Linked DNA regions of Homo sapiens. The protein of the gene in region 1 purifies or fractionates together with the protein of each later gene. This does not show direct contact. Each region holds a gene or a part of one and is shown in the gene's direction. Other genes may lie near its edges. The genes, in order: PRDM5, BAG1, ZNF687, PGK2, CASC3, FBXO11 and YBX2.

Region 1 (4,274 bases):
AAAAAAGGCAGTGTTATGCTCTCAGGTCATTCTGCATTCAGCTTACAGGTCTAAAGAAGTTATTAGCACAACTTACCAGTTTTCTTATTAAAAAGAATTATGTGTTTAAAAATAAAATTTGTTGTGCAATTGCAGGAATTTCTATTATAGTTCATTACCAGTTTGATTTAGAAAAATAACTGTTATGAGATGAATGAATGTTAGAATAGAGATTTGGACAAGTAAACCTCATTCATACTATTGAAATATGGCTAAATTTGACTTGATGCTTGGGAAATTTTGCTTGGGAATGATGAAATTTTATTTCTAATAACAGCAAGGAATTCTTAACAGAAGTAATCTACCACCTTTGCTTTCAGTTTTTTTGTTCTCATTCACTTGAGAAATAGGATTAAAGTGACTATGTGTAGACTGTGCTGTGGAGTATGTATTTAATATGATGTTGATCAGCACATTAATCACAGGCTTTATGAAGATGCATCGTGACATTTGGCCAGGAAAATCAACTTTGATAACTGAGTGAGTAAATGAGTTATTTTAGGGAAATAAAGTTAGATATCAGTTAGTGAAAAGAATGGGAAAACCAGAAATGGCTAAAATAGGGAGGACAAAATACTACGTCTTATGCAATATGAAAATTAAAACCCATTTATTTAACTTTAAAATATGAAAGCTGTTGTTAGAAACTTACATCAGCTTTCTGGCTCAAAATGTGAAGAATAACTTGTAATGATTTTGGAAATTGTTGCTATTTCCCAATATGTTGAAAACCAAAAGGCAAGTTGCTGGCTAGCTTGTAGGTACTAAGATAGGGAAAAAATCTGATAAATTTAACACAAAGAAATCTGCAATTAAAGTATGAAAGAAGGAAGGTAAGAACTTCCTTGCTATAGCTTGATGAGATTTTGTACAGGGACCAACATTTTTATTCACTTGATAGTTTAATGAAAATGCTTTGATAGGAACAATCTTAGAGGTTTTTTTAAAAAGATCTCTTTCAGTACCTGAATCGATTTGATATTAACATTAATGTTTACAGTCTTTTATCAATTGATATTTCCTTATGCTATCACTGATTATACAACTTATACAAACAGAATGTTTAAATAAAACAGAAAGTATAAAGATAGTGTATAAGAATAATACTCTGCAACAAAAACACACAAAAAACCAAGCTCTCAGAATCCACATAGTTCATGCATTGTATGGACGTGACTTTGTTTCAGACATTAAATTTCAAAAGGACTCTAAGAGACTTTAAGTTAGAGAGGGATAATTCTATTTAGAAAGACAAAGAGAAGGTAATTTTTCTTTTCCTTTTCTCCTTCTTTTTGTCCCTCCCTCCCTTCCTTCCTTTCTTCCTTCCTTTCATGTGAAGAAATAATAGAGTCTTCATATTTCTAAATTTAGTGCTAGTTATGATGGAAGGAATTTAGAAGAGCTTGGCTAAAATTGAGATAATCTCTTATTTAGATATAGAAATTTAATTATTCTTAATTTTGCCTTGTTATCAATATGATATGGGAATCTATGTTAATATGATTGTTTTCTAAAAAGGGAAATTATATTCAAATACTAGTCTGTCTTATTTATATAGTCACATACTACATACATTTTATACCGTATTGTTATTAAACATCGTGTTCTCATTGCACACATTCATTGCTGAAATTGTATTTAAAATGGCCACTAAAACTTAGGCCCATGTGTTAAGAAGAACTATAAAAATAGCATTATATGAAAGTTAGAAAGTACCATAAGATTTCTATATATGTTTTCTGAGGTTGCTTTCCCCTCAGCCCCAGGCTGGATAATGAGAAGAAAGTGAAATACCCAGGGTGGCTAATAGTCTTGCTATCCCAATTTAATTCCTCTCTGAAAGACCCCATCCCTCAAAGCCTTGGAGACTTTTTCCAACTGCCCAAGGGCTGAATCAGGGAGCCTCCAGTCCAGGAAGCAGGGGCATTGTAACTTTCCCTCTCCCAGAATGGGAGGGCCTGAGCTCTGATGCACACCCTCTGCCCTCAGAGGCTTTCCTCCTCAGCTCTCTACCTACAATCCAATTCTGCCTATTATCTATTCACAGGAGGTTATAGGGACCGTGGTGGGATTTGAGGGAACTTTGGGAGGGGCCCAAAGGCAACTCACCTTGCTTGACAGAGGTCTTGTGTCACTGGAGTCTATTTACCTCAAATCCCAGCCCCCGCTGTAGAAGTACATACTTTTAAAAAATGTTCATGGTAACTTTGAGAATTCTGCTAATTCAGTCCCCACGTTTTCCAGTTGAGAAGACTGAAGATGTAAGATGAAAGGACTTCTGCCTAGTCACACAGTGAATTAGCAAATAATGGAACTGGAATTTGTTGTAAAAAATAAAAAGTTAACATTCTTAGAGCTACAAAGCCAACATTTTGGAGAAAGCAACTAAGTCTGGCATACATGGGAGGAAATTAATAGGACCCTGCTATTGCTTCTTAAATGTTTCTCTTTGTTTCTAAGGTGAGAGGACTTTCAAGTGCCATCACTGCGATGCTACCTTTAAGAGGAAGGATACATTAAATGTTCATGTCCAGGTGGTTCATGAAAGACACAAGAAGTATAGGTGTGAGCTATGTAATAAGGCCTTTGTTACACCTTCAGTGCTTAGAAGTCATAAGAAAGTAAGTGGAAGTCTTCTGTTAGTTTGAACAGATTACGTGTTTAAGCAGTATGGGTATATATGTTAACTAACATGTGATAATTATATATTAATCTATCAAAATATTTACTCAAAATGACAAATGCATGATTTATATCAGCTCTTCAGACAATGTTCACTTTCTTCATCTTTCAGGATAGACCTATTTTTTTCCATGAATGAGAACCTGAGTTAGATGTAGACTCTTCATAACCCATAGCTTTGCTGATAGATGGCTTCTAAAAAGTACTCAATGAGCAGGAGCTTATCAATTTTTATATATTTTTGAATTAATGTAGGCTGTTTCTTTCTAAGAAATATGAGTAGTACTTTAATAATTTTATATTTCAAAGTGAATTCTTATGTTTATTGGCAAGTTAATAGACTGAACCCTTTTGTTATTGGGATAGGCTTTGATCTTTACCTCTCTAGAGCATAGGGAAGTTTCTGGTACAGAATGGGGACTCGATAAATACTTGCTTAACTCAAAGAAAATGTTCATATAGTGATTTGGAGATTTTTTTGTGTGTGTCTTATGCTACTTGGGTCATTACCTCAAGGGAATCAAGTTTATTTTTTACGTGCTCAATAATGCGTTTTAAAGTATATATTTTAAATAGTAAAATTTGTATTGTAACAAATACACTTAAAGGTTTTAATGTTGACTTTTTTCCTTATTTTGGAGACAGAGTCTCGCTCTGTTGCCCAGGCTGTAGTGCAGTGGTGTCATCATAGCTTACTGTATCCTTGAACACCTGGGCTCAAGTGATCCTCCTGTTGAAACCTCCCGAGTAGCTGAGACTAGTCATGTCTCACCATGCCCAGATAATTTTTTAAAATTTTTGTAGAGATAGGGTCTTGCTATGTTGCCCAGGATGGTCTTGAACTCCTGGGCTCAAGCTATCCTCCTCTGAAAGTGCTGGAATTACAGGCATGAGACACTGCACTCAGGCAGTGTTAACTTTAGAAGTAACCATGAAGTATGGTAGTTTTCTGCCATTAGTGTGTGATACTGAATGAATGTGAAGAAATAACTCCTGTTTCAGTATCTATCTATCTTATCTGTCCTTAATACAACTGTTTCAAAAGGATTGAATTGAGTAACTTTCTTTTCCTGTATTTTTTTAATATTTAATTTTTATGGGTACATAGTAGATATAGTTATATACAGGAGATATTATATATATATATTGTTTGTTTGTTTGTTTGTTTGTTTGAGTCAGAGTCTCACTCTGTCACCCAGGCTGGAGTGCAGTGGTGCCATCTCGGCTCTCCGCTCTCCACAACCTGTGCCTCCTGGGTTCAAGCAATTCTTGAGCCTCAAACTCCCAAGTAGCTGGGATTATAGGTGCCTGCTACCACGCCTGGCTAATTTTTTGTATTTTTAGTAGAGACGGAGTTTCACCATGCTGGCCAGGCTGGCCTTGAACTCTTGACCTCAAATGATGTGCCCGCCTTGGGTTCCCAAAGTTCTGGGATTGTAGGCATAAGTCACTGTGCCCAGCCTGAGATATTGTATTTTGATACAGGTATTCAGTGTATAATAATCACATCTAGGGCATATGGGTTCCTGTATTTTTAATGCTGAGTAATAATG
Region 2 (3,512 bases), on another chromosome or scaffold:
CTGGCCGAGTGAGGTGTAGCAGAAAAAGGCTGTGCTGCCCTGAAGAATGGCGCCACCAGCTCTGCCGTCTCTGGAGCGGAATTTACCTGATTTCTTCAGGGCTGCTGGGGGCAACTGGCCATTTGCCAATTTTCCTACTCTCACACTGGTTCTCAATGAAAAATAGTGTCTTTGTGATTTTGAGTAAAGCTCCTATCTGTTTTCTCCTTCTGTCTCTGTGGTTGTACTGTCCAGCAATCCACCTTTTCTGGAGAGGGCCACCTCTGCCCAAATTTTCCCAGCTGTTTGGACCTCTGGGTGCTTTCTTTGGGCTGGTGAGAGCTCTAATTTGCCTTGGGCCAGTTTCAGGTTTATAGGCCCCCTCAGTCTTCAGATACATGAGGGCTTCTTTGCTCTTGTGATCGTGTAGTCCCATAGCTGTAAAACCAGAATCACCAGGAGGTTGCACCTAGTCAGGAATATTGGGAATGGCCTAGAACAAGGTGTTTGGCACATAAGTAGACCACTTATCCCTCATTGTGACCTAATTCCAGAGCATCTGGCTGGGTTGTTGGGTTCTAGACTTTGTCCTCACCTCCCAGTGACCCTGACTAGCCACAGGCCATGAGATACCAGGGGGCCGTTCCTTGGATGGAGCCTGTGGTTGATGCAAGGCTTCCTTGTCCCCAAGCAAGTCTTCAGAAGGTTAGAACCCAGTGTTGACTGAGTCTGTGCTTGAAACCAGGCCAGAGCCATGGATTAGGAAGGGCAAAGAGAAGGCACCAGAATGAGTAAAGCAGGCAGGTGGTGAAGCCAACCATAAACTTCTCAGGAGTGACATGTGCTTCCTTCAAAGGCATTTTTGTTAACCATATCCTTCTGAGTTCTATGTTTCCTTCACAGCTGTTCTATCCATTTTGTGGACTGTCCCCCACCCCCACCCCATCATTGTTTTTAAAAAATTAAGGCCTGGCGCAGCAGCTCATGCCTATAATCCCAGCACTTTGGGAGGCTGAGGCGGGCGGATCACTTGAGGCCAGGAGTTTGAGACCAGCCCAGGCAACATAGCAAAACCCCATTCTGCTTTAAAAAAAAAAAAAAAAAAAATTAGCTTGGCGTAGTGGCATGTGCCTATAATCCCAGCTACTGGGGAGGCTGAGGCACAAGAATCATTTGAACCTGGGAGGTAGAGGTTGCTGTGAGCCGAGATTACGCCCCTGCACTCCAGCCTGGGTCACAGAGTGAGACTCCATCTCAGAAAAAAAAAAAATTGAGTCAGGTGCAGTAGCTCCTTCCTGTAGTCCCAGCTACTTGGGAGGCTGAGGCTAGAGGATCACTTGAGCCCAGGAGTTTGAGTCTAGTCTGGGCAACATAGCAAGACCCCATCTCTAAAATTTAAGTAAGTAAAAGTAGATAAATAAAAAGAAAAAAAAACTGTTTATGTGCTCATCATAAAGTAGAAGAGTGGTTTGCTTTTTTTTTTTTTTTTGGATTAATGAGGAAATCATTCTGTGGCTCTAGTCATAATTTATGCTTAATAACATTGATAGTAGCCCTTTGCGCTATAACTCTACCTAAAGACTCACATCATTTGGCAGAGAGAGAGTCGTTGAAGTCCCAGGAATTCAGGACTGGGCAGGTTAAGACCTCAGACAAGGTAGTAGAGGTAGACTTGTGGACAAGGCTCGGGTCCCAGCCCACCGCACCCCAACTTTAATCAGAGTGGTTCACTATTGATCTATTTTTGTGTGATAGCTGTGTGGCGTGGGCCACAACATTTAATGAGAAGTTACTGTGCACCAAACTGCCGAACACCATTCTAAACTATTCATATATATTAGTCATTTAATTCTTACATAACTTGAGAGGTAGACAGATATCCTTATTTTAGAGATGAGGAAACCAAGAGAACTTAGGTCATTAGCGCAAGGTTGTAGAGTAAGCGGCAAAGCCAAGACACAAAGCTGGGTGGTTTGGTTTCAGAGCCAGTGCTTTTCCCCTCTACTGTACTGCCTCTCAACCAACACAGGGTTGCACAGGCCCATTCTCTGATTTTTTTCCTCTTGTCCTCTGCCTCTCCCTCTAGCTCCCACTTCCTCTCTGCTCTAGTTCATTTTCTTTAGAGCAGCCCGAGTGATCATGAAGTGCAAATCTTGCCATGTCAGTCCCCTGCTTAGAACCCTCCAATGGCTCACTTTCTCTTTAGGCAAAAGTCTTTACCCCATGCCTTCTCCCATCTCATCTCAACCCCCTCATTTGTTGGCTGTCTGCTGTCAGCCACTCTTCTTTCAGGTCCTCAGATGCACTGCACCCTCTCCTGCCTGGGGGTCTTTGCTCCTGCTACTACCTCTGCTTGAACAGCTCCTCACCTTCCTTCCTCCAACCCTACCCTTGTATAGGTGACTTTTGTTCATCCTTCAGAATTCAACTCACATGTCTCTTGCATGGAGAACCCTCACCTACTGTGTTGAGACCCTGTCCAGCCCCCAGGTGGGATCCTCTCTCGACTTCCCATACATTTCTTTCACAGCATTTACATAGTCCATGATAGTTTACTTGTGGGATTATTTGGTTAATCTTTGCCTTTAACACCAGGGTTCCTTGGGTGAAGGAGCTTCTTTATCTTGGTAACAGCATTATTTCAAGCATAACTTGTAATATAGTTATATTACATATATAACATATATATATATAACATAACATATATAACATATATAACAAGCATAACTTGTTATATAGTCTTGTATATAGTAAGACCTCAATAAATATTTGGAGAACAAATGAATGTTGAATGCACACATCAATAGTGAAACTTCTATAGCTGCATTTGGCCTCAGAATCTCCGTCAGCATTGGAATTTACAGCCTTAACAGCCTTTATTGTCTTAAGGGTTGAGAAAAGAGGCCCTAATGCATGGACTGCTGGGCAGATGTGATAGGTGATTGCACAGGCCCCACCCACGCAGATCTGCTCACCCAAGGGGTTTCTGCCTGTGAAACTCTTCTCCCGTGAGAAGGGGAGAGAGCACCCCTTCTTCTCCCGTGAGAAGGGGAGAGAGCACCCCTTCTTCTCCCGTGAGAAGGGGAGAGAGCACCCCTTCTTCTCCCGTGAGAAGGGGAGAGAGCACCCCTTCTTCTCCCGTGAGAAGGGGAGAGAGCACCCCTTCTTCTCCCGTGAGAAGGGGAGAGAGCACCCCTTCTTCTCCCGTGAGAAGGGGAGAGAGCACCCCTTCTTCTCCCGTGAGAAGGGGAGAGAGCACCCCTTCTTCTCCCGTGAGAAGGGGAGAGAGCACCCCTTCTTCTCCCGTGAGAAGGGGAGAGAGCACCCCTTCTTCTCCCGTGAGAAGGGGAGAGAGCACCCCTTCTCAGGTGCCCACTTGCCTGGGACATGGTAAGTCTTACCACAGGGAGAACAGATGGGAATGTGTGCTCCCACAAACGAATTCTTCGGCCTCAGGGCTGGAAGGATTCTCCCACATTGTTTTTTGTTTTTGTTTTTTTTTGAGATGGGTTCTTGCTCTCTTGCCCAGGCTA
Region 3 (4,274 bases), on another chromosome or scaffold:
GCTGGGAGGCATAGCTGGGACTACAGGCACGTGCCATCATGCCTGGGGAGTTTCACCATGTTGCCCAGGGTGGTCTTGAACTCCTGGGCCCAAGTGATTGGCCTCCCAAAGTGCTGGGATTACAGATGTGAGCCACCACACCCGGCCATTTGTGTCCTCTTTCAAACAGCAAAAGTAAGGCACTGAAGAAACTTGCTTGTACTGCACGCCCCTGATAAAGCTGAACGAGGATCATTTCTTAAGTCTTGGCTTATGGCATTGTCCCTTTGTACATGCAGCCTTTCAGATCTGTGTGGACCCCAGAAGATCCGTGAAGAATATGAATTGATTCCATGCGGACATGAATGAGTCCTTAAACCTAGAACATCATGTACATCATCCTCCTTAATAATAGTATTGATTATTTGGTTCTATGCTGGGGACCGGAGGGGATGAGATGGTTTCCACCAGAATGCTCACTGAGCTCTATTACCCTTCCCTGTTCCCTGTATTTTTTTTTTTTTTCTGAGACAGTCTTGCTCTGTCGCCCAGGTGGGAGTGCAGTGGCACGATCTCAGCTCACTGCAAACTCCACCTCCCAGGTTCAAGCAATTCTTCTGCCTCAGCCTCCCGAGTAGCTGGGACTACAGGTGTGTGCTGCCATGCCCAGCTAATTTTTGTATTTTTAGTAGAGACGGGGTTTCACTATCTTGGCCAGGATGGTCTTGATCTCCTGACCTCGTGATCCGCCCGCCTCTGCCTCCCCAAGTGCTGGGATTACAGGCGTGAGCCACCATGCCCAGCCCCCTATATTTCTTTTTTTTGAGACAGGGTCTCGCTCTGTCCAGGCTGGAGTGCAGTGGCGTGATCTTGGCTCATTGAAACCTCAACCTCATGGGTTCAGGCGATTCTCCTGCCTCAGCCTCCTTTGTAGCTGCGATTACAGGCATGTGCCACCACACCTGTCTAGTTTTTTGTATTTTTAGTAGAGACAAGGTTTCACCATGTTGGCCAAGCTGGTCTCAAACTCCTGACCTCAAGTGATCCATCTGCCTCAGCCTCCCAAAACGCTGGGATTACAAGCATGAGCCACCGCACCTGGCCCCTTCCCTGTATTTCTAAGAACTCTCTTTTCCCCTGCTTTCTCTGGATTTTGGAGCCCACCAAGGTATGGACACTAATCCTCTTCTGATTTTAAGGTTTGGCAAACCTAGCAGCTCTGTAGGATTCATGCCGTGGCGGAGGTGTACCTAAGTTGGAGTGTATGTGGGTTCTGAGAGAGGATAAATATGGAGATGCTGAGGGAAGAGCTCCAGGATCTCTCTTCTAGACATCTCAGTTTCTCCTCCTCGTTCCTGTTTTCATCAGGTCTGGGATCTGCCGATATGGGGGATATGAAGACCCCTGATTTTGATGACCTCCTTGCTGCCTTTGACATCCCTGACATTGATGCGAATGAAGCCATCCATTCTGGGCCAGAAGAAAATGAGGGGCCTGGAGGCCCAGGGAAGCCAGAACCAGGTGTAGGAAGTGAATCTGAAGACACAGCAGCAGCCTCTGCTGGGGATGGCCCTGGAGTTCCAGCCCAGGCCTCTGACCATGGCCTGCCACCGCCAGACATTTCTGTAGTCAGTGTCATTGTCAAGAACACTGTGTGTCCCGAGCAGTCTGAGGCCCTGGCTGGAGGCTCAGCAGGAGACGGGGCCCAGGCTGCTGGGGTAACTAAAGAAGGGCCTGTGGGGCCTCATCGAATGCAGAATGGTTTTGGGAGCCCTGAACCTTCCCTCCCAGGAACTCCCCACTCTCCTGCTCCTCCCAGTGGGGGCACCTGGAAAGAAAAAGGCATGGAAGGCAAAACTCCCTTGGACCTGTTTGCTCATTTTGGCCCTGAGCCAGGGGACCACTCAGATCCGCTGCCTCCCTCTGCACCCTCTCCCACTCGGGAGGGGGCTCTGACCCCGCCTCCTTTCCCCTCTTCCTTTGAGCTGGCCCAGGAGAATGGCCCAGGCATGCAGCCACCTGTTTCTTCCCCACCATTGGGGGCCTTGAAGCAGGAGAGCTGCAGCCCCCATCATCCCCAGGTCCTAGCCCAACAAGGCTCAGGCTCCAGCCCTAAGGCCACGGACATCCCTGCCAGTGCCTCGCCTCCCCCAGTTGCTGGGGTGCCCTTCTTCAAGCAGTCTCCAGGGCACCAGAGCCCTCTTGCCTCCCCCAAAGTGCCCGTCTGTCAGCCCTTGAAGGAAGAAGATGATGATGAGGGGCCAGTGGACAAGTCTTCCCCAGGAAGTCCCCAGAGTCCCTCTAGTGGGGCCGAGGCTGCAGATGAGGACAGCAATGACTCCCCTGCCTCCAGCTCCTCTAGGCCTCTTAAGGTGCGGATCAAGACCATTAAAACATCCTGCGGGAATATCACAAGGACTGTAACTCAGGTCCCCTCAGATCCTGATCCACCTGCCCCCTTGGCTGAGGGGGCCTTCTTGGCTGAGGCTAGCCTCTTGAAGCTGTCCCCTGCAACACCTACTTCTGAGGGTCCAAAGGTGGTGAGCGTACAGTTGGGTGATGGTACAAGGCTGAAAGGCACTGTGCTGCCTGTGGCCACCATCCAGAACGCCAGTACTGCCATGCTGATGGCAGCCAGTGTGGCTCGCAAGGCTGTGGTGCTGCCTGGGGGGACTGCCACCAGCCCTAAGATGATTGCTAAGAACGTGCTAGGCCTGGTGCCCCAAGCCCTGCCTAAGGCTGACGGGCGGGCAGGGCTGGGGACTGGGGGACAGAAGGTGAATGGTGCCTCGGTGGTGATGGTGCAACCTTCAAAGACAGCTACTGGGCCAAGTACAGGGGGCGGCACAGTGATATCACGGACCCAGTCCAGCCTGGTGGAGGCCTTCAACAAGATCCTCAACAGCAAGAACCTGCTCCCTGCCTATAGGCCAAACCTGAGCCCACCAGCTGAGGCTGGGCTGGCCCTGCCTCCCACCGGCTACCGCTGCCTGGAGTGTGGGGATGCCTTCTCATTGGAGAAGAGCCTGGCACGGCACTATGACCGTCGGAGCATGCGCATCGAGGTCACCTGCAACCACTGCGCCCGCCGCCTGGTCTTCTTCAACAAGTGCAGCCTGCTCCTGCATGCACGTGAACACAAGGACAAGGGGCTCGTCATGCAGTGCTCACATTTGGTCATGAGGCCTGTAGCCCTTGACCAGATGGTGGGGCAGCCGGACATCACACCGCTGCTGCCTGTAGCTGTCCCACCTGTCTCTGGACCTCTGGCCTTGCCTGCCTTGGGCAAGGGTGAGGGGGCCATCACCTCCTCTGCCATTACTACAGTTGCTGCTGAGGCCCCTGTCCTGCCGCTCTCCACAGAGCCGCCTGCTGCCCCGGCCACCTCTGCTTACACATGCTTTCGCTGCCTGGAGTGCAAGGAACAGTGCCGGGACAAGGCTGGCATGGCAGCTCACTTCCAGCAGCTCGGCCCCCCTGCCCCTGGGGCCACCAGCAATGTGAGTCACCTTTCACAGCCCTTCTGTGGGGACAGGATCTAGGAAGGCGTTGGGGGCTTGGTTAGAAGTAATGGAGACAGGACACTCCTCACCGACTTTCCTTGTTTAACCCACTCGACAGGTGTGCCCAACCTGCCCCATGATGCTCCCCAATCGCTGCAGCTTCAGCGCCCACCAGCGCATGCATAAGAATCGACCCCCCCATGTCTGTCCTGAGTGTGGGGGCAACTTCCTGCAAGCCAATTTTCAGACCCATCTCCGGGAGGCCTGTCTGCACGTCTCTCGCCGTGTAGGATACAGGTGCCTCGGACCCTTCCTCCATAGAACTGTAGGGTTTCGTGTGTCCTAGCCTCAGCCTCAGATGGCCTTTCAAGATCCCCTATCTTCCCTGCTATATCCCTCAGCCCTGTTGTTTTGCCAGACTCAACCCTGAGATAGTACGTCCTGCCTTCCCGTCGTCCCCCATGGAGATGGGGGGAAGCAGGGCCACCTCTGGAGCTCCAGCTCTCCCTTGGCAGCCTCCCTTGGGGCACAGCCTCTGCACCTCTCTCCTTTCTCCACCCTGCTCATGCTCCACTACTGATTTCCTTCTTGTAGTCTACCCAGTCCCAGAGAATAAATGTATGGTCCCGGGGTGGGCATGGAGATGCCTCCCACCTCACCACAGGGCCTCCTGCTTCCTCCCTAGGTGCCCCAGCTGTTCAGTGGTGTTTGGGGGTGTGAACTCCATCAAGTCCCACATCCAGACGTCGCACTGCGAGGTTTTCCACAAGTGCCCCATCTGCCCCATGGCCT
Region 4 (4,351 bases), on another chromosome or scaffold:
CATATTTTTTATTTGCATTCATTAAAGTTTACTCTCTACAACGTACGATTCTATGAATTTTGACAAGTGCATAGAATGTTGTATCCACCACTCCAGTACCTCATAGAAAAGTTTACCACACTAAAAATCCTCCTGTGTATCCCCATTATAGTTGACCACGCTCTCTTAACCTGTAGCAACCACTGATATGTTTTCCATCCCTATAGTTTTGCCTTTTATCAAATGTCATACAAATGGAATTATACAATAACTACAAAATTTTTTTGCCTGGCGTCTTTCAGTTAGTAAGGCACATTTAAGTTTTATCCAGGGCTTTTGTGTAAGTAAATAGCTTGTTTCTTTTCTTTTTTTAAAAAATAATATTCCATTGCATGGATATATCACAGTTTATTTATTTATTACTTGAAGAATATACAATTTTGGTAATTATTAATAAAACTGCTCTAAACGTTTGTTTACAGAAGTTTGAGAGAATACAGGTTTTTGATGTCCTTGGATGAATATCTAGAAATAGGATTGATGACTTGTATGGTAAGTCTATGCATATTTCTAAGAAATTGCCAAGCTGTTTCCCAAAATGTCTGTAGCATATTTCATTCCTGGGAGCAACAAATGAGAGTTTCTGTTACTATATATTTTAACACCATTTAAGTTTGCTTTTAAATGCTGTTGACTCGATGTTCAACATTGAGGAACCGATAAACTGTTTTTTAAAGTGGCTGCACCATTAGACATTCCTATCAGCAATAAATGAGGATTCCAATTTGTCCACTTCTTTCTCAACACTTGTTTTTATTTTTTATTTTAGCCATCTTAATAGGAGATGCCTCAAATATATTTCTGTCAAAGCCTTCATTTTACATATTTAGTTCACTCAACTTATGGAGTAGAATGAAAAAAACTGTAAAGCCAATTTTCATTACTAAACCAACTAGCCACATACATTTGCTTTCTCCAAAAATAGAATATCTTACTCACTTTCAATTCTAATATATGTTTTCATCTTCATGAAAACCATGCATTTATTTTTCAGCTCAATTTCTAAGTTGTACAGGTAGGAAAGCAAACAGAGAGGAGACAAAAAATAAGGAGCCTCATCATAACATTGTAGTCTGAAAGAAATGTCACCATTACTTTCAGCACTTGTTACTGATACTCTCTTTGCTATGATCTTATGGGATTCTCCTGCAGAAGTGACCAAACATTCTTTCATGGTAGTCTGAAAATGGAAGAAGCAAAGTAATGAAAATATGACAGCATTCCCACCACGTCCCAGAATAGATCTAAAGATGAAGACTAACAACAAGCCACATCCTCAAAGAAATATTTATCAAGACAAGGAAAAAACAGAACTATACTATCCTGACTTGAATAAGCAAGGTTTCATATGAAAATCATTATTTCAAATATTCCTTTTATTTGGCACTGCAGAGGTTTTTACATATCAAAATGGTTAAGATTTGACATGAATGAGGTGTATGTAGGTTTGCGGGGGTGGGGGTGGAGTTCTTTTTGTTTTGTTTTTAATAATAAAAGCAACTGTTAACCGAGCTGTGGGGTGGGGGCAAAAAGAGCCAGAAGGCGGCGCACACCTCAGGACTATTCTTGTTTTTTTAGAACCATTCTTATTCTGGGGTTTCTTCACCTACCCAAGTCTCGCCTGAAGCCAGGTACAGCTCTATTCCACTACATGACCCTCTGCCCAGGAAGTTGGAATCTTCACCTAGCAACACAGTTCAGATCGAGATTGACAGGACCATGAGCCAATCACAAAGCTAGATTTGCTTTCCAGTCTAACAGTGGCCGTTGTGCTGGAGACAGTGAGGAGAAGAAAGGGGCGGGACAAGGGCAAAGGCGTTAGAAGTCACCACCGACCCAGCCCCTCAACAGCAAGTTGGTTCTTCAGCATTAAGATCCAGGTGTCAGCCTATGTCTTTATATTGTCAAGATGTCTCTTTCTAAGAAGTTGACTTTAGACAAACTGGATGTTAGAGGGAAGCGAGTCATCATGAGAGTAGACTTCAATGTTCCCATGAAGAAGAACCAGATTACAAACAACCAGAGGATCAAGGCTTCCATCCCAAGCATCAAGTACTGCCTGGACAATGGAGCCAAGGCAGTAGTTCTTATGAGTCATCTAGGTCGGCCTGATGGTGTTCCCATGCCTGACAAATATTCCTTAGCACCTGTTGCTGTTGAGCTCAAATCCTTGCTGGGCAAGGATGTTCTGTTCCTGAAGGACTGTGTAGGCGCAGAAGTGGAGAAAGCCTGTGCCAACCCAGCTCCTGGTTCAGTCATCCTGCTGGAGAACCTGCGCTTTCATGTGGAGGAAGAAGGGAAGGGCCAAGATCCCTCTGGAAAGAAGATTAAAGCTGAGCCAGATAAAATAGAAGCCTTCCGAGCATCACTTTCCAAGCTAGGGGACGTCTATGTCAATGATGCTTTTGGCACTGCACACCGCGCTCATAGTTCCATGGTGGGAGTGAATCTGCCCCATAAAGCATCCGGATTCTTGATGAAGAAGGAACTAGATTACTTTGCTAAAGCCTTGGAAAACCCAGTGAGACCCTTTCTGGCTATACTTGGTGGAGCCAAAGTGGCAGACAAGATCCAACTTATCAAAAATATGCTGGACAAAGTCAATGAGATGATTATTGGTGGTGGAATGGCTTATACCTTCCTTAAGGTACTCAACAACATGGAGATTGGTGCTTCCCTGTTTGATGAAGAGGGAGCCAAGATCGTTAAAGATATCATGGCCAAAGCACAAAAGAATGGTGTAAGGATTACTTTTCCTGTTGATTTTGTTACTGGGGACAAGTTTGACGAGAACGCTCAGGTTGGAAAAGCCACTGTAGCATCTGGCATATCTCCTGGCTGGATGGGTTTGGACTGTGGTCCTGAGAGCAACAAGAATCATGCTCAAGTTGTGGCTCAAGCAAGGCTAATTGTTTGGAATGGGCCGTTAGGAGTATTTGAATGGGATGCCTTTGCTAAGGGAACCAAAGCCCTCATGGATGAAATTGTGAAAGCCACTTCCAAGGGCTGCATCACTGTTATAGGGGGTGGAGACACTGCTACTTGCTGTGCCAAATGGAACACTGAAGATAAAGTCAGCCATGTCAGCACTGGAGGCGGTGCCAGTCTAGAGCTTCTGGAAGGTAAAATCCTTCCTGGAGTAGAGGCCCTCAGCAACATGTAGTTAATATAGTGTTACTTCCTTCTGTTTTCTGTCCATGGCCCTTAAGTCAGCTTAATGCTTTTACATCTCGATGTGACTTTTGTTAAAATCTACTCCTAGATCAAGACCTATGTAATGGACAAGCAGCAGGCCATCAGGAACTCTTAATATCAGCACAGCAATTCATTTTAGTTTGGTCACGCATTTGCCTGTTCAAGTTCTCATTTGAACTTCACCATTGTGCTATCTAGGGAGGACATATTCTTAAGTTGCCTATTAAAGAAAGTGAGCTGAAGAAACTGAATCTTTTTATTTTAGTCCAACTTTGCTATTGTTTCATAATTTGAAACCCAAAAGATAAAACTTAATTTGTTGGGAAAGGGTGGAATGAAAGTTGACAAACAAACAATAAATATGCCCAAATAAACTGAGAAAAATAATTACATATAAAGAACTCATGGGTACCATTAAAGTTCTGCTAAGGGGAAATGTTATACTAAATAGGACCAAAAAAAAGAGAAATGAAAGACACTTATTAAACCCAAGGAATTTTTAAAAAGAAAAGAAATTAAACTCAAGGTAAGAATTATGTTTGTGTGCATATCAATGCACAAGATTACACACAAATGCCAGCTAGAAAAAGAGCTACAAGTTAAACCCAAGTTGTAAATAAGTAATTGTTTTATTTTTAAGGCAGGCATTATTTAATAAATAGATAATATAACTGGTAAGTTCTAAAACTTGGTTTTTGAGATAAATAAAATATATATACATAGCTGGTTTAATAATGGGAAAATAGAGATAAAAATTCTCTATTAGAAAACAGAAGATAAAATGATAAGAAATGTAGAAAAAACAAAAACACTTATTGGAAAATATTTTGCTTTATTCTGTAGACAGAGGTAGTTTAGGGCAATGCTATTAACAAGAATAGTAATTAAGAGTAAAAATGCAGATTAACCTTTCCCAGCTATAATGTCTTATGTCCCATAACCGCAGATCAATTGTGATATTCAATATCCTGAATAATTGAGCTTCAAATATGAATCTTAATACATCTGAAATTTCAACATATTTTAAGCAGAATGTTAATATCATAGTAATCCCAGGAAAGATGTAGGAGTTAGGATTAATGGAACCAAAACTTGAGTAGTTGAAACAAGAATAAAA
Region 5 (4,274 bases), on another chromosome or scaffold:
TGAGGCAGGAGAATGGCGTGAACCTGGGAGGCAGAGTTTGCAGTGAGCTGAGATTGCACCACTACATTCCAGCCTGGACAACAGCGAGACTCCGTCTCAAATAAATAAATAAATAAATAAATAAATTAATTAATTAATTAATTAAAAGGGGCTGGGCGTGGTGCCTCATGCCTGTAATCCCAGCACCTCAGGAGGCCGAGGTGGGCGGCTTGCCTGAGCTCAGGACTTTGAGACCAGCCTGGGCAACATGGTGAAACCTTATCTCTACTAAAAGTACGAAAATAGCTGGGAGTGGTGGCATACGCCTGTAGTCCCTGCTACTCAGGAGGCTGAGGCATAAGAATTGCTTGAACCCAGGAGGTGGAGGTTGCAGTGAGCTGAGATCGCGCCATTGCACTCCAGCCTGGGCGACAGAGCAAGACTCTGTCTCCAAAATAAATAAATAATAAATAAAATATAAAGGACACCTATCCCTGTTGCAGTAAGAATTCCAAGTATAACTTTTGACTCACCCAAAACTTAACTACTAAGTCAACTGGAAGCCATACCAATAACATAAACAGTCAGTGAATATGTATTTTATATTTTATGTGTATTATGTACTGTACTCTTACAATGAAGCTAGAGAAAAGAAAATGTTATTAAGAAATCATTCACTATTAAGGAAACATACTATTCAGTGGAAGTGGATCATCATAAAGGTCTTCATCATCTTTGCATTGAGTAGACTTCAGAAGAGGAGGGGTTGATCTTGCTGCCTTGGGTGACAGAGGCAGTGGAAGGAGAGGCAGGCATACTTGCTGCAACTTCTATTGAAAAAAAATTTGCGTAGAAGTGGACCTGAGTAGTTCAAACCCCTTGTTCCAGCGTCAACTATACCCAGATGCTGAGCAGGGAAAAATGAGGAAGAGGGATTAATTGGCTTGTCTGGGCCAATCAGGCTGACTCAGCTCTATTTGAAGAGATGGCAGAAACTTAGAGTTTGAGAGTTTCTCAATCAGGAATTCAGGAATCTCATGTTGAGCCTCTTTGACCAGATTATTGGGGCCAGCCTGGGTCTTGAGTGACAGGGCAGTCTGGTTCAGTTCAAGTATCAGACCCAGTAGGTGAGTGAGAGACCAGTGTACATACATCTACCAGGTTTCAGATGTAACCCACCAATGAAGACTAGACCACCTTTCCTTGAACCCATTTCTCTGTGTTCTCGTAGGCCTCCCTAGCCATAGCTCTGCCTCCTTAGGTCCAAATCTGGGGAGGACAAGGAGAGGAGAGTAACCCTATTCTAAAGCCAGTTCCCTTATCATGAGCCTTAGCTGCTGCCTTTTCCTACCTAGAACTAGCCACACGTCCATTTCCTGGCCCTTTCTAATGGCCTAATGATCCTTTGTGTGTAGACCCAGCACTTTCTGTGTCATGAACAGTGTTACCCAATCTTGATGTGGTAAAAGAGGGAAGAAGATAGTAAAAAGAGAGAGAGAGCACTTGGACTAATTTTTTTCATTTCTGAAATGTGATGGTTGTACAAGTTGTCCTTTAAGGTTTTTTAGGTCAAATTTTTGTAATTATGTGATTCTGGATATGTTCTGGCTGCAGGAATTTTCTGCTGCAGAAAACCAGTACTCATAGGCATTAAAAAAAGCTACCATTTTCCAGCTTGAGGATAAGTGCATTGGGAAATCATGGAGTCATTATCAAGAGTTTGCACATCTGGTTGGGCGCAGTGGCTCATGCCTGTAATCCTAGCACTTTGGGAGGCTGAGGCAGGAGGTTCGCTTGAGCTCAGAAGTTTCAGACCAGCCTGGGTAATGTGGTGAAACTCTGTCTCTACAAAAAATACAAAAATTAGTTGGGCATAGTGGTGTACATCTGTAGTCCCAGCTACTTGTGGGGGCTGAGGTGGGAGGATTACTTGAGCCCAGGAAGTCAAGGCTATAGTCAGTTGAGATCACACCACTGCACTCCAGCCTGGGCGACAGAGTGAGACCCTGTCTCAAAAAAGAGTTGCATGTCTACTCATTCAGTTCTCATTATCTATAGACTAAAATATACATCTCCCCCCTTATGTACTACTATTTTTGAATATATGTAAATTAATAAAATGTAAACTTAAAGTGTTATTGAATGTATAACAGTTTGTTGTTTTTTGTTTGTTTTTGAGACAGTCTCTGTTGTCCAGGTTGGAGTGCAGTGGTGCGATCTCGGTTCACTGCAACCTCTGCCTCCCAGGTTAAAGTGATTCTCCCGCCTCAGCCTCCTGAGTAGCTGGGACTACAGGCACGCACGCATCAGTTCATTGTGTGTTTTTTTTTTTTTTTTTTTGAGACAGGATCTCTCTCTGTTGCTAAGACTGGAGCGCAGTGGCACAATTATGGCTCACTGCAACCTCTACCTCCTGGGCTGAAATGATCTCACACCTCAGCCTCCCAAGTTGCTGGGACTATAGGCGCACACCACCATTCCTGGCGAATTTTTTTTTTTTTTTTTTTTTTTTTGACAGGGTCTCACTCTTTTGCCCAGACTAGTATCAGTGGTGCAATCTTGGCTCACTGCAACCTCCACCTCCTGGGTTTAAGCAATTCTCTTGCCTCAGCCTCCCAAATAGCTGGGATTACAAATTCATGCCACCATGTCTGGCTGATTTTTGTATTTTTAGTAGAGACAGGGTTTCACCATGTTGGCCAGGCTGGTCTCAAACTCCGGACCTCAAGTGATCCACCTACCTCGGCCTCCCAGAGTGTTGGGATTACAGGCGTGAACCACTACATCCAGCCTAGCAGTTGTTTGTCATTGTATGTTTTCTCAGTGAATATCTCATGGGGATCCATGAAAATTTTTAGATCCTAAAAAGGGGTCCGCATAATCAAAAAGGTTGGGAATTTCTGCTCTAAGCCATTTTGAGATGGGAGAGTTCACAACTTACGTCAAAGTATAGTTATTAGGCACTGCATGTTTAAGAGACAATTCATGGGCCAGGTACAGTGTTCATGCCTGTAATCCCAGCCCTTTGGGAGGCCAAGGGAGGAGGATTGCTTGAGCTCAGCAGTTTGAGAACTGCCTAGGCAACATAGCGAGACCTCGTCTCTACTAAAAATAAAAAAAAATCAGCCAGGTGTGGTGGCATGTGCCTGTAGTCGCAGCTACTTGGGAGGCTGAGGTGGGAGGATCACTTGAGCCCAGGAGATTGAGATTGCAGTAAGCCATGATTGTGCCACTGCACTCCTGGGCAACAGAGCAAGACCCTGTCTCAAAACAGAAAAAAAAAAAAAGATAATTCATGGAGAGAGAGATTATCAAGGAAGATTAAGCTCCTCTTATATGTTAGGTATCGTATAGTAAGTCTCCCTTCCATTCTTATCCTCTGGGCCCATTAGAGGCTGCCGCTGTTTTTTTGTTTTTTTGTTTTGCTTTTTCGAGATGGAGTTTTGCTTTTGTCACCCAGGCTGGAGTGCAGTGGCACAAACTTGGCTCACTGCAACCTCCGCCTCCCGGCTAATTTTTGTATTTTTAGTAGAGACAGAGTTTCACCATGTTGGCCAGGCTGGTCTCGAACTCCTGACCTCAAGTGATACGCCTGCCTCGGCCTCCCAAAGTGCTGGGATTACAGGTGTAAGCCACTGCGCCCAGCCTGCCACTTTTAATAATTCTTGCATATGTTCCAGGAATACCTATGTGGATATATATGTATGTATGTGTGTATTTTTTTTAATGTGATATTTTTAAAATAGTGTCTTTTTTTTATTATTACTATTTTTTGCGACAGAGCCTTGCTCTGTCGCCCAGGCTGAAGTGCAGTGGCGCAGTCTCTGCTCACTGCAAGCTCTGCCTCCCTGGTTCAAACGATTTTCCTGCCTCAGCCTCCCGAGCAGCTGGGATTACAGGTGCCTACCACCAAGTGCGGCTAATTCTTATATTTCTAGTAGAGATGGGGTTTTGCCATGCTGGCCAGGTTGGTCTCACACTCCTGACCGCAGGTGATCTGCCTGCATTGGCCTCCCAAAATGTGATTACAGGCGTGAGCCACTGTGCCAGGCCAAAATAGGATCTTTATTTTCTAGAAATATGGGTAAGAATATTGATTTGTTTGCTTTTCAGTTCTATGTTGTACTAAAAATTTATTGATAAATGTATTCCTAAAGAGTAGAAAATTGAAATGCAGCCAGGCACGGTGGCTCACGCCTATAAACCCAGCACTTTGGGCGGCCAAGGCAGGCAGATCACGAAATCAGGAGTTCAAGACCAGCCTGGCCAACATGGTGAAACCTGGTCTCTACTAA
Region 6 (4,274 bases), on another chromosome or scaffold:
CGCTACCACACCAGGCTAATTTTTTGTAGTTTTAGTAGAGATGGGGTTTCACTGTGTTTTCCAGGATGGTCTCGATCTCCTGACCTCGTGATCCGCCCACCTTGGCCTCCCAAAGTGCTGGGATTACAGGCTTGAGCCACTGTGTTATTTACAAGTTTTCAACATGATGGGTTGGTTTCCACTAGCATCTTTCAAATAATCTTTTTTTTTTTTTAATTTTTAAAGTATTATTATGAACTCATAGATGGATGGATTGACTGACTGATTTTGAGACAGGGTCTTGCTCTGTCACCCAGGCTGGAGTGCAGATGTGTGATCATAGCTCACTGCAGCCGTGCTCTGTTGAAAGCACTTTGGAGGCCAAGGTGGGAGGATTGCTAGAACCCAGGAGTCTGAGACCAGCCTGGGCAATATAGTGAGACCCCATCTCACCAAAAAAAATTGTTTTTTAGTTAGCTGGGTGGTGGTGCATGCCTGTAGCCCCAGCTGCTTGGGATACTGAGGCAGGAGGATTGCTTGAGGCCAAGAGGTTGAGGCTGCAGTGAGCTGTGATCGGGCCACTGCACTCCAGCCTGGGTGACAGAATGAGACCCTATCTCCAAAAAAAAAAAAAAAAGATGTTCATACACCAGACTACCCTCTGACACCCTTTTTAACCTACCTGGTATCTCATGCACTATATTGAGCCGTTCCTCTTCATAGACACACTCCTTGCCAAGCTGCCTTCACCATATATGGTCTCTAACCATGTAGTACCAGTTCCCTTCCCACTCCTCTCAGCAAGTGGATATCCTCCTCACCTTTTTTTAAAAAAAAGTCTTCCACGGCTGGGCGTGGTGGCTCACGCCTGTAATCCCAGCACTTTGGGAGGCCGAGGTGAGTGGATCACGAGGTCAGGAGATCAAGACCATCCTGGCTACCACGATGAAACCCCATCTTTACTAAAAATACAAAAAATTAGCTGGGCGTGGTGGCGGGCGCCTGTAGTCCCAGCTACTCGGGAGGCTGAGGCAGGAGAAAGGCGTGAACCCAGGAGGCGGAGCTTGCAGTGAGCCGAGATTGCGCCACTGCACTCCAGCCTGGGCGACAGAGCGAGACTCTGTCTCAAAAAAAAAAAAAATCTTCCACATTTTATAGAAATCTAACATTTCTTTCATATAGCTATCCAGTTGGTTGGAATTTCATATAAAACTTACATCTGCTCCCTCCCGAATTTGAAGTTTTAAGAAAGTTTTCTGTATCCATAGAACTTTTTTTAAAAAGGGTATAATTTTTCTTATTGCTTTTGTTTATAACAGATGATGATGTGCCTGCAGATATGGTTGCAGAAGAATCAGGTCCTGGTGCACAAAATAGTCCATACCAACTTCGTAGAAAAACTCTTTTGCCGAAAAGAACAGCGTGTCCCACAAAGAACAGTATGGAGGTAACTTTAACTGTAGTTGCTTTTCTTTTTGTAATGAAAGAATTTTCAAGAAACAAAAAAGGGAATGTCATCCTTTTTTAGAAGTAATGATTATGGATGATAAGAATATTTGCTTTACTAGTTTCTGTTTTGTTTTTGAAGGGCGCCTCAACTTCAACTACAGAAAACTTTGGTCATCGTGCAAAACGTGCAAGAGTGTCTGGAAAATCACAAGATCTATCAGGTATTTCCTGTGGGAAAGTAACAAATAGGGTAAAATAATTTTTTTTAATTTTGCTTGATACCAAAAAATGAAAATTAAGTGTATTCGAGTATTACCTTTGGGATTCAGAAAGTGATTATTACAGAATAAACTTTAGAACCCTGACCTCTCCCTCTGACTTTTATTGTTGTATAAAAATGCTTTTTATGTATTTATTTTAACCATTTCTGAGATGGCACATAATACCTAAAAGAAGGAGTACTTTTGTTAGTTCAGGATAGAGATAAATATGTGTTACCCATGAAACCCACATGCTTATAAAATGACCATTATCCAAAAAAAAAAAGCTATTCATTAGATAAAATGAAAACTGTGTTCTTTAAATAATGAGAAAGTTATTGCTCGAATGATAGTTTATATGTTAATCTCTTTATAGCAGCACCTGCTGAACAGTATCTTCAGGAGAAACTGCCAGATGAAGTGGTTCTAAAAATCTTCTCTTACTTGCTGGAACAGGATCTTTGTAGAGCAGCTTGTGTATGTAAACGCTTCAGTGAACTTGCTAATGATCCAATTTTGTGGTAAGTAAAAACCTATTCCTTATTAACTTGAGATATGTTATTTGTTGCCCAAAATGCTAAACATGGTAGGAAAGTCGGTGCGGTGAGTTGGTAGTTACAATTAGTTGGAACAAAATTAAAATGCTTATCAATTCCAAGTTACAAATGGGGGCTGTCAGTCCAGGTGGTATTTATAAATCAGTAAATGAAGTCTTTTATCTGCTGTTTATCAGTTAATAGCAACTGATTGATTATGGGAAATGTTTTTCTTTTAGTAGCTTTTTAGAAACATAACAGTGTAATTTAAAATAGCTAATGAATTTTAAATCTGATAGATTAGAATGTAGGTTTTATATATCACTTTTGGAAAACAGTTGTATTCATGAATCTTTAAATAATTCATGCCCTTTGACCCAGTAATTACTGGGTCATGCCCTTTGACCCAGTAATTCTACTTCTGAAAAGTTTTTTTTGCTTTATGTACAGATTTTTCGTAACAGCCTAGTTAATAATGAGAAAAATTATAAATAATCTAAATATCCAGAATTAAGGGAATGAACTACATAAACTGTGTAATGTGTACTTGGAGAGTTGTGATATAACCACTAATAGTAATTTTTACAAAGAGATTTTCATTTGTTTTTTGAGAGACAGGGTCTTGCTCTGTCACCCAGGCTGGAGTGCAGTGTCACGCTCCTAGCTCACTGCAGCCTCAACCCTCTGGGCTCAAGCCATTCTCCCACCTCAGCCTCCTGAGTAGCTGGCACCACAGGCATGTGTCACCATGCCCAGCTAATTTTTTTTTTTTTTTTTTTTTTGAGACAAAGGGTCTCACTCTGTTACTCAGTCTGATCTTGAACTCCTGGGGTCAAGTGATCCTTCTACCTCGGCCGCCCAAAGTGCTGGGATTATAGGCATGAGCCATTGCACCCAGCCCAGGTTTTTAATAAGATGAAAAAAATGCTGTTATAAAAAGTGAAAAGAGGCCAGGTGTGGTGGCTCCTGCCTGTGGTCCCAGCTACTCCGGAGGCTGAGGCAGGAGGATCATTTGAGCCCAGGAAGTCAAGGCTGCAGAAAGCCGTGATCGTGCCACTGCACTGCAGCCTGGGCGGCAGACGGAGACCCTGTTTTTTAAAGAAAAGAACAGAGTACAAAATTGTATATGCTATATAATCACAACTATAATAAATGATCTGTAGATAAAATGAGTGGAAGCAAATATGGCAGACTGTTAATAGTTAATATATTGAAACTATAGTTCTTTACACTTCTTTGTTTTACAACGGTTATATGTATTACTTTTATGATGCACAAAAGGTGCACCATATATATATATGTTTTTGTTGTTGTTTTTGACGGAGTTTCGTTCTTGTTGCCCAGGCTAGAGTGCAGTGGCACAATCTTGACTCACTGCAACCTCTGCCTCCCGGGTTCAAGCAATTCTCCTGCCTCAGCCTCCTGAGTAGCTGGGATTACAGGCACCTCCCACCATGCCCAGCTATTTTTTGTATTTTTAGTAGAGACAGGGTTTCACCATGTTGGCTAGGCTGGTCTTGAACTCCTGACCTCAGGTGATCCTCCTGCCTGGGCCTCCCAAAGTGCTGGGATTACAGGCATGGGCCACTGTGCCCGGCCCACACCTTACATTTAAGAGAAAAATTACAAAGGAGAAATGAGAATGAAGAGCAGCAGAACAAAACAGCATTGCTCACTGTACCAGAAATGATAATAGTTAGCCATTACTCCAGTTTGAAGATTTCATTGTGCTTGATAGGATATAAATGGACTGAAGATATAGGACAAATTAAGTTCAAAGTATTTTTACTGAAAATTATCTTTTTAGGCTAGGCGAAGTGGCTCACGCCTATAATCCCAGCACTTTGGGAGGCTGAAGTGGGCAGATTACTTGAGCCCAGGAGTTTGAGACCAGCCTGGGCAACATACTGGGACCTCATTTCTACAAAAAAAAATCAAAAAATAAGACAAGAGGATCACTTGAACCTGGGAGGTTAAGGCTGCAATGAGCCATGATCACGCCTCTGCACTCCAGTGTGGGCAACGGGAGTGAGACTCTGTCTCAAAAAGA
Region 7 (4,886 bases), on another chromosome or scaffold:
GCGTGAGCCACCGCGCCCGGCCCATTTTCTTAATCTTCCCAGGCTCCCGAGAAACCTGGTACAAGCCTCGCACTGCCCCTCAGTCCTCTCATCTGTGGAATGGGGGCCGTTCATGTATTCGATAAATATTGAACGTGTACGTTGTACCAGGCACTGCTGCAGGCGTCCAGCTTAACTACAAGGCTCTTACTGCTGTGGAGTTTACAGCCCACTGTGTGCAGGGAAATAAAATAAGCAAATGGTCAGGATCATGTCATATTTTCAAAAATGCCATTAGAAAAATAAGGAATGGTGTGATGGCGAAGAGTGGCACGTAAGCTGCTGCTTGGAGAGAGCCACCTGGAGACACGAAGGCGCGTTTTCGGCAGAGGAAACCGCATGTGCAAAAGGCCTCGAGTCCGCTGGAGCTTGACGCCTGGCCGGAGACCACAGCCCCCGGCATACAGACGTGAGAGACCCCAAAGCCAGTCTAGGGCGGTAGACATCAGAGCTGCAGCGGTCGGTATGGGCCACATGGGTGGACACATTGATCAAAACTCAGCGAAGGCCGGGCACGGTGGCTTACCCTGTCATCCCAACACTTTGGGAGGCTGAGGCGGGCGGATCACCAGAGGTCAGGAGTTCGAGACCAGCCTGGCCAATATGGTGAAACCCCATCTCTACTAAAAATACAGAAATTAGCCAGGTTGTGGTGGCGCAAGCCTGTAATTCCAGGTACTCAGGAGGCTGAGGAGGGAGAATCGCTTGAACCCGGGAGGCAGAGGCTGCAGTGAGCCCAGATCGCGCACTGCGCTCCAGCCCGGGCGACAGAGGGAGACCTTGTGTCAAAACAAACAAACAAACAAACTCAGCGAAGAAGAATTGCGCATTGTACTACTTGTAAACCTTGTTTCCAATACAAACATAGGTAGGGGCAGGCCGGGAGCCACCTTGAGGTGGCTCAAGGCAGGAGAATCGCTTGAACCAGGGAGGCGGAGGTTGTAGCGAGCCGAGATCGCGCCACTGCACTCTAGTCTGGGCGACAGGGCGAGACCCTGTCTCAAAAAAAAAAAAAAAAAGAAAAGAAAAGAAAAAGAAAGAAAAAAGAAAAGTAGGGGGTCCTGGCTCATGGGAGCAAGTGTGAGCCGGGAAAACCATTCTGCTGCGCTTTCCAGCCTATCCTGCGGTTGGATCCCGCAGCCCCAGGGTGTGCAGGGCCGTCCTGTGGGGAGAGGGTGCCAAGGGCGGTGGTGGCCGGAAGGCGTCTGCACCTGGCAGCATACGGGCAAGGTCGGTCTCGAGGGTGGAGGCGAGCGGTGCTACTCACTGCCAGAACCGAGGCTGCAGATTCCCGCCCCTCGCTCAGGTCGTTAGGGGCAACCTTGGCACTGCGGCCCCGGCCCCGCCCTTCCCGCAGAGGCCAGGTGGCGGTTGGGGCGCGACCGGCCCGTTTGATTTCCCGCGGCCGGTGGAAAGGGGCGGAGGGGGGAGGGGAAAGGGGCCGCCGGCCAATGGGTTGGGCCGGGGGCCGTCACGTGGCGGCCAGGGGGCGGGGCCCAGGTGTACTTACTGGGCGGCTGGCGGGGGCCGGGGCCGCGGTGCGAAGTCCGGGAGGCGGGGTCGGCGTGCGGTCCGGGGGTGCTGCTGGGCTGGGATTGGCCCGTGGTCGGGAGGCGGGGTCTGCGCGAGCGGCGGCAGCGGGCTGCCATTGGCCTCGGCTCCGGGCCCGCTGCCGGCGTGTGGGCGAGGCTCGGGGCGCGAGGACCGAGCAGGGCGGTGGGTTCGCGAGCCGGGGGGAGGGGCCGGGGCGGTGGCGGCTGTGGCCGGTACTGGACCCGGCGGGATGAGCGAGGTGGAGGCGGCAGCGGGGGCTACAGCGGTCCCCGCGGCGACGGTGCCCGCGACGGCGGCAGGGGTGGTAGCGGTGGTGGTACCGGTGCCCGCAGGGGAGCCGCAGAAAGGCGGCGGGGCGGGCGGCGGGGGCGGAGCCGCCTCGGGCCCCGCTGCTGGGACCCCCTCGGCGCCGGGCTCCCGCACCCCTGGCAATCCGGCGACGGCGGTCTCGGGAACCCCCGCCCCCCCGGCCCGGAGTCAGGCGGACAAGCCGGTGCTGGGTGAGGGGCAGGCGCGCACAGGGCGGCTCTGAGGGGTCGGCGGGCTGGGGGAGGGGCAGTGTGGAGCCCGGCAGGATCCGGAAAACCAAAGGCGGCCTGGCCCGCAGGCCCAGAGCGCTAACTGGGCTGGGAGCTGCGCACCAAAGTGGATTCCCCTGGTGGGAAATCCTGCCGTACCTTCCTGGGAGAGAGGGCGGGGCCGGCAGGTTCAGCTAAGGTCTTGGGGTGGAGAATAAAGCCCCAGGGTCCGGCCACGCCCCCGGGCGGGACACAGTGCCTAGTTGACTGGGTTAGAACTAGGCAAACCTCTGAGCCTGGCAAGCAGGTGCACTGGGGACCCTTGCATTGGGAGGGCTAGAAAAACCCTCAGTTATGACCTGGGGGCGGCACTTTGCAGACCAGGTGAGTACCCAGTTCTAGGTGAAGGGGCTGGATTTGTAGGATGTGGGGAACGTGACTTAGAGTTGGAAGGCTTTTTGAAAGCCTGAGTCCCTGTGTGGGTGATTTCATTTGGTGGACTAGGGTAGGAATACCTTGAAGCTACTAGTGAAACCTGGTTGGCTTGAAGGTAACCTGAATAGGTAATAAGGCAGTAGGCTAGATTTTTTTTTGTTTTGGAGTGTCTCAAAACTGAGTTCAACTCCATCTCTTCCCCCCATCTCACTGTCCCCACTGCATCTCTGCCTGGCAGCAATCCAAGTCCTGGGCACTGTCAAATGGTTCAACGTCCGGAATGGTTACGGATTCATCAACAGGTATCCAAGGAACCCAGGGCGGGGGTGGAATGGGTGTCTTCCCAGCTGGCCTGTGGGACTGGACACCCGCCCAACCTCATCGACCCCTGCGGAGGCACATGGTTGCAATGTCCAGCTGATGCTGGTTGAAAGCCTTTAACCGCAGCACAAATGTGTGCTTCGTGACAAGAGGAAGCCTCCTCCGCATCTTCAAGGGTAGCGGAGGATTAATGATTCAGGAACTTGGCAAACCTGGCTCTGACCCTGCCAGCTTCTCATCTCACCTTCTGGAATTGCTTCATTACTTTTACTCTGACATGCCTTTGGGGCAGAATGTATTATAGGGTTCTCTGTGCCTCAGGGCCCCCGGCTGGAATCCTCAACTGATTTCCTGTTATGGCAGCACTCACAACTCAACTCCCTTAAAGAGCTGTGGCTCATTCGAGCCCTCCACCTGTTGGGACTGAGGCTGACAGTGGGGGTCAGGAGGAAGGAGCCAGAGGCTGCTGCTTTCCTTCAGTAGGCAGCCCCACCCCTCAGCACCGGGAGAGGCTGTGGCAGTGGATTCTGAGCAGAGCCAGGTCTCCCCCAGTGGGCCCTTCCCCAGCCCAGGCATCCTGCCCGGCCTGGCTCTCCTGGGAGGCCCTAGTTCCCTCTTAGCAGGCTGACCTTTGTGCAGATCCAAGTGCTTTAAAGCTAAAACGTTTGTTCTGGGGAAGGGTCCCTGTCTAATTCTGGAAATGGCAGACTGGGTCGGGGGCAGAGTGCCTCCAGGAAAACTTTTCCTTTCTCCCCTCCCCCCACCCACTGGGGTTCTTATGATAGAGAATGGGTGAATGTTTTCTTCTCTCTCACCCTTGGTCCCACGCGTGTTGAGAGTGGTCCTGACTCTGGGATTCACCTCCAGGCTGAGGATGAGAATAAAGTTTGGCAGCTGTTTAGAGCAAGTTCCTGACACATTGTTCCCTTCTCAAACTTGTTCTGCCCCTCTGGCCCCATCTGCACTTTCTGCCTCCTTGACTATAGAAGGAAGAAGACTGGAATTTTCCAACCCTGATGGGGGTTGGGGGAGGGGGTGTTGGCCAGGGACAGTTGCACCCAGCGCTGGCAGGTTGTAAGGCTAGCCTGGGGTGGAAGGTGGAGTCCCGGCAGGGGCAGAGCTGTCTGAGGTTCCTCAAGGTGCCTTTGCCTCCCCAGCCTGCCCTTTCCTTGTGAAGTCCAGGTTTGGCACTGAGGTTTTAGGTGTATCTCTCTTTACACCAGCTTCTGGGGGCCCTGCTGGCTCTCCCTCCCATTCCCCAGGCCATGTCCACCCCTAACTGGAATGCTGGAGAGGATGGGCCCACTGAGCTTAGACTGGGCATCTAGGGGGACCTCAGTGAGGAGCTGAGGGCTTTGTTGAAGTCCCTTCCTTAACGACCCATCCTGTTCTGCAGGAATGACACCAAGGAAGATGTCTTTGTTCACCAGGTAAGAGCTAGGTTAGCTTTCTGAGGGGAAGAACCGGCCGTCTTTGAAGGCCTTTGCTGTAATCCTTAGCAGTGCGCTCCGCCATGTTTCTCTGGCTCTTCTTCACAACGGCCCATCCGCCTTGGGTGCCTGTGTCAACCACCATTAGCCGCACTTGTGCTGGGTTACTAAACGTCCGTCAGAATTGAGCATGTTACCCCTGGGCATGGCACGCTTACTACCCACCGGGACCTGTTAACACTCCAGGAAGCACTGAGGCAGTTTTCAGAGGGAGAAGGTCCTTGGGTGCAGTGGTTCTCAAAGCGTGGCCCCTGCACCAGCGGCAGCAGCATCACCTGACATCCGAATTCTCAGGTCCCACCCCAGACCTGGTGAATCAATCAGAGCTGGGGCTGGGGCTCCACAATCGGTTTAACGAGCTCTCCAGGTGATTCTGATGCACGCTACAGCTTGAGAACCACTGCTTGGTGGAAAGAGCTCTCACTGGGACTGAGGTAAGAAGCACAGTGCATTCTACCCACTTTGCGACTGAAGGCTGTCCCTGCCTTTTGCTTTGGAGTTCATATTTCTTGCCTCCCTTTCTGAAATC

Evidence for each region.
Region 2: the proteins of PRDM5 (region 1) and BAG1 purify together in Homo sapiens (affinity purification with mass spectrometry; 2 studies listed by BioGRID and IntAct, with this or other methods). This does not show direct contact.
Region 3: the proteins of PRDM5 (region 1) and ZNF687 purify together in Homo sapiens (affinity purification with mass spectrometry; 2 studies listed by BioGRID and IntAct, with this or other methods). This does not show direct contact.
Region 4: the proteins of PRDM5 (region 1) and PGK2 purify together in Homo sapiens (affinity purification with mass spectrometry; 2 studies listed by BioGRID and IntAct, with this or other methods). This does not show direct contact.
Region 5: the proteins of PRDM5 (region 1) and CASC3 purify together in Homo sapiens (affinity purification with mass spectrometry; 2 studies listed by BioGRID and IntAct, with this or other methods). This does not show direct contact.
Region 6: the proteins of PRDM5 (region 1) and FBXO11 purify together in Homo sapiens (affinity purification with mass spectrometry; 2 studies listed by BioGRID and IntAct, with this or other methods). This does not show direct contact.
Region 7: the proteins of PRDM5 (region 1) and YBX2 purify together in Homo sapiens (affinity purification with mass spectrometry; 2 studies listed by BioGRID and IntAct, with this or other methods). This does not show direct contact.

What each region holds. Positions count from the first base shown.
Region 1 is NC_000004.12:120,779,529-120,783,802, reverse strand, and holds part of PRDM5 (PR domain zinc finger protein 5), read left to right. Parts: intron 1-2,499; coding exon 2,500-2,660; intron 2,661-4,274. UniProt on the Homo sapiens protein: Sequence-specific DNA-binding transcription factor. Represses transcription at least in part by recruitment of the histone methyltransferase EHMT2/G9A and histone deacetylases such as HDAC1.
Region 2 is NC_000009.12:33,251,719-33,255,230, reverse strand, and holds the end of BAG1 (BAG family molecular chaperone regulator 1), read left to right. Parts: coding exon 1-12; 3' UTR 13-2,760; downstream 2,761-3,512. UniProt on the Homo sapiens protein: Co-chaperone for HSP70 and HSC70 chaperone proteins. Acts as a nucleotide-exchange factor (NEF) promoting the release of ADP from the HSP70 and HSC70 proteins thereby triggering client/substrate protein release.
Region 3 is NC_000001.11:151,284,928-151,289,201, forward strand, and holds part of ZNF687 (zinc finger protein 687), read left to right. Parts: intron 1-278; exon of another isoform or gene 279-1,147; intron 1,148-1,347; coding exon of another isoform or gene 1,348-1,364; coding exon 1,365-3,479; intron 3,480-3,600; coding exon 3,601-3,779; intron 3,780-4,167; coding exon 4,168-4,274. UniProt on the Homo sapiens protein: May be involved in transcriptional regulation.
Region 4 is NC_000006.12:49,784,785-49,789,135, reverse strand, and holds PGK2 (phosphoglycerate kinase 2), read left to right. Parts: upstream 1-1,850; 5' UTR 1,851-1,948; coding exon 1,949-3,202; 3' UTR 3,203-3,476; downstream 3,477-4,351. UniProt on the Homo sapiens protein: Essential for sperm motility and male fertility. Not required for the completion of spermatogenesis.
Region 5 is NC_000017.11:40,157,245-40,161,518, forward strand, and holds part of CASC3 (protein CASC3), read left to right. Parts: intron 1-4,274. UniProt on the Homo sapiens protein: Required for pre-mRNA splicing as component of the spliceosome. Core component of the splicing-dependent multiprotein exon junction complex (EJC) deposited at splice junctions on mRNAs.
Region 6 is NC_000002.12:47,836,794-47,841,067, reverse strand, and holds part of FBXO11 (F-box only protein 11), read left to right. Parts: intron 1-1,298; coding exon 1,299-1,426; intron 1,427-1,567; coding exon 1,568-1,649; intron 1,650-2,064; coding exon 2,065-2,209; intron 2,210-4,274. UniProt on the Homo sapiens protein: Substrate recognition component of a SCF (SKP1-CUL1-F-box protein) E3 ubiquitin-protein ligase complex which mediates the ubiquitination and subsequent proteasomal degradation of target proteins, such as DTL/CDT2, BCL6, SNAI1 and PRDM1/BLIMP1.
Region 7 is NC_000017.11:7,291,437-7,296,322, reverse strand, and holds the start of YBX2 (Y-box-binding protein 2), read left to right. Parts: upstream 1-1,683; 5' UTR 1,684-1,822; coding exon 1,823-2,093; intron 2,094-2,784; coding exon 2,785-2,848; intron 2,849-4,263; coding exon 4,264-4,297; intron 4,298-4,746; coding exon of another isoform or gene 4,747-4,791; intron 4,792-4,886. UniProt on the Homo sapiens protein: Major constituent of messenger ribonucleoprotein particles (mRNPs). Involved in the regulation of the stability and/or translation of germ cell mRNAs. Binds to Y-box consensus promoter element.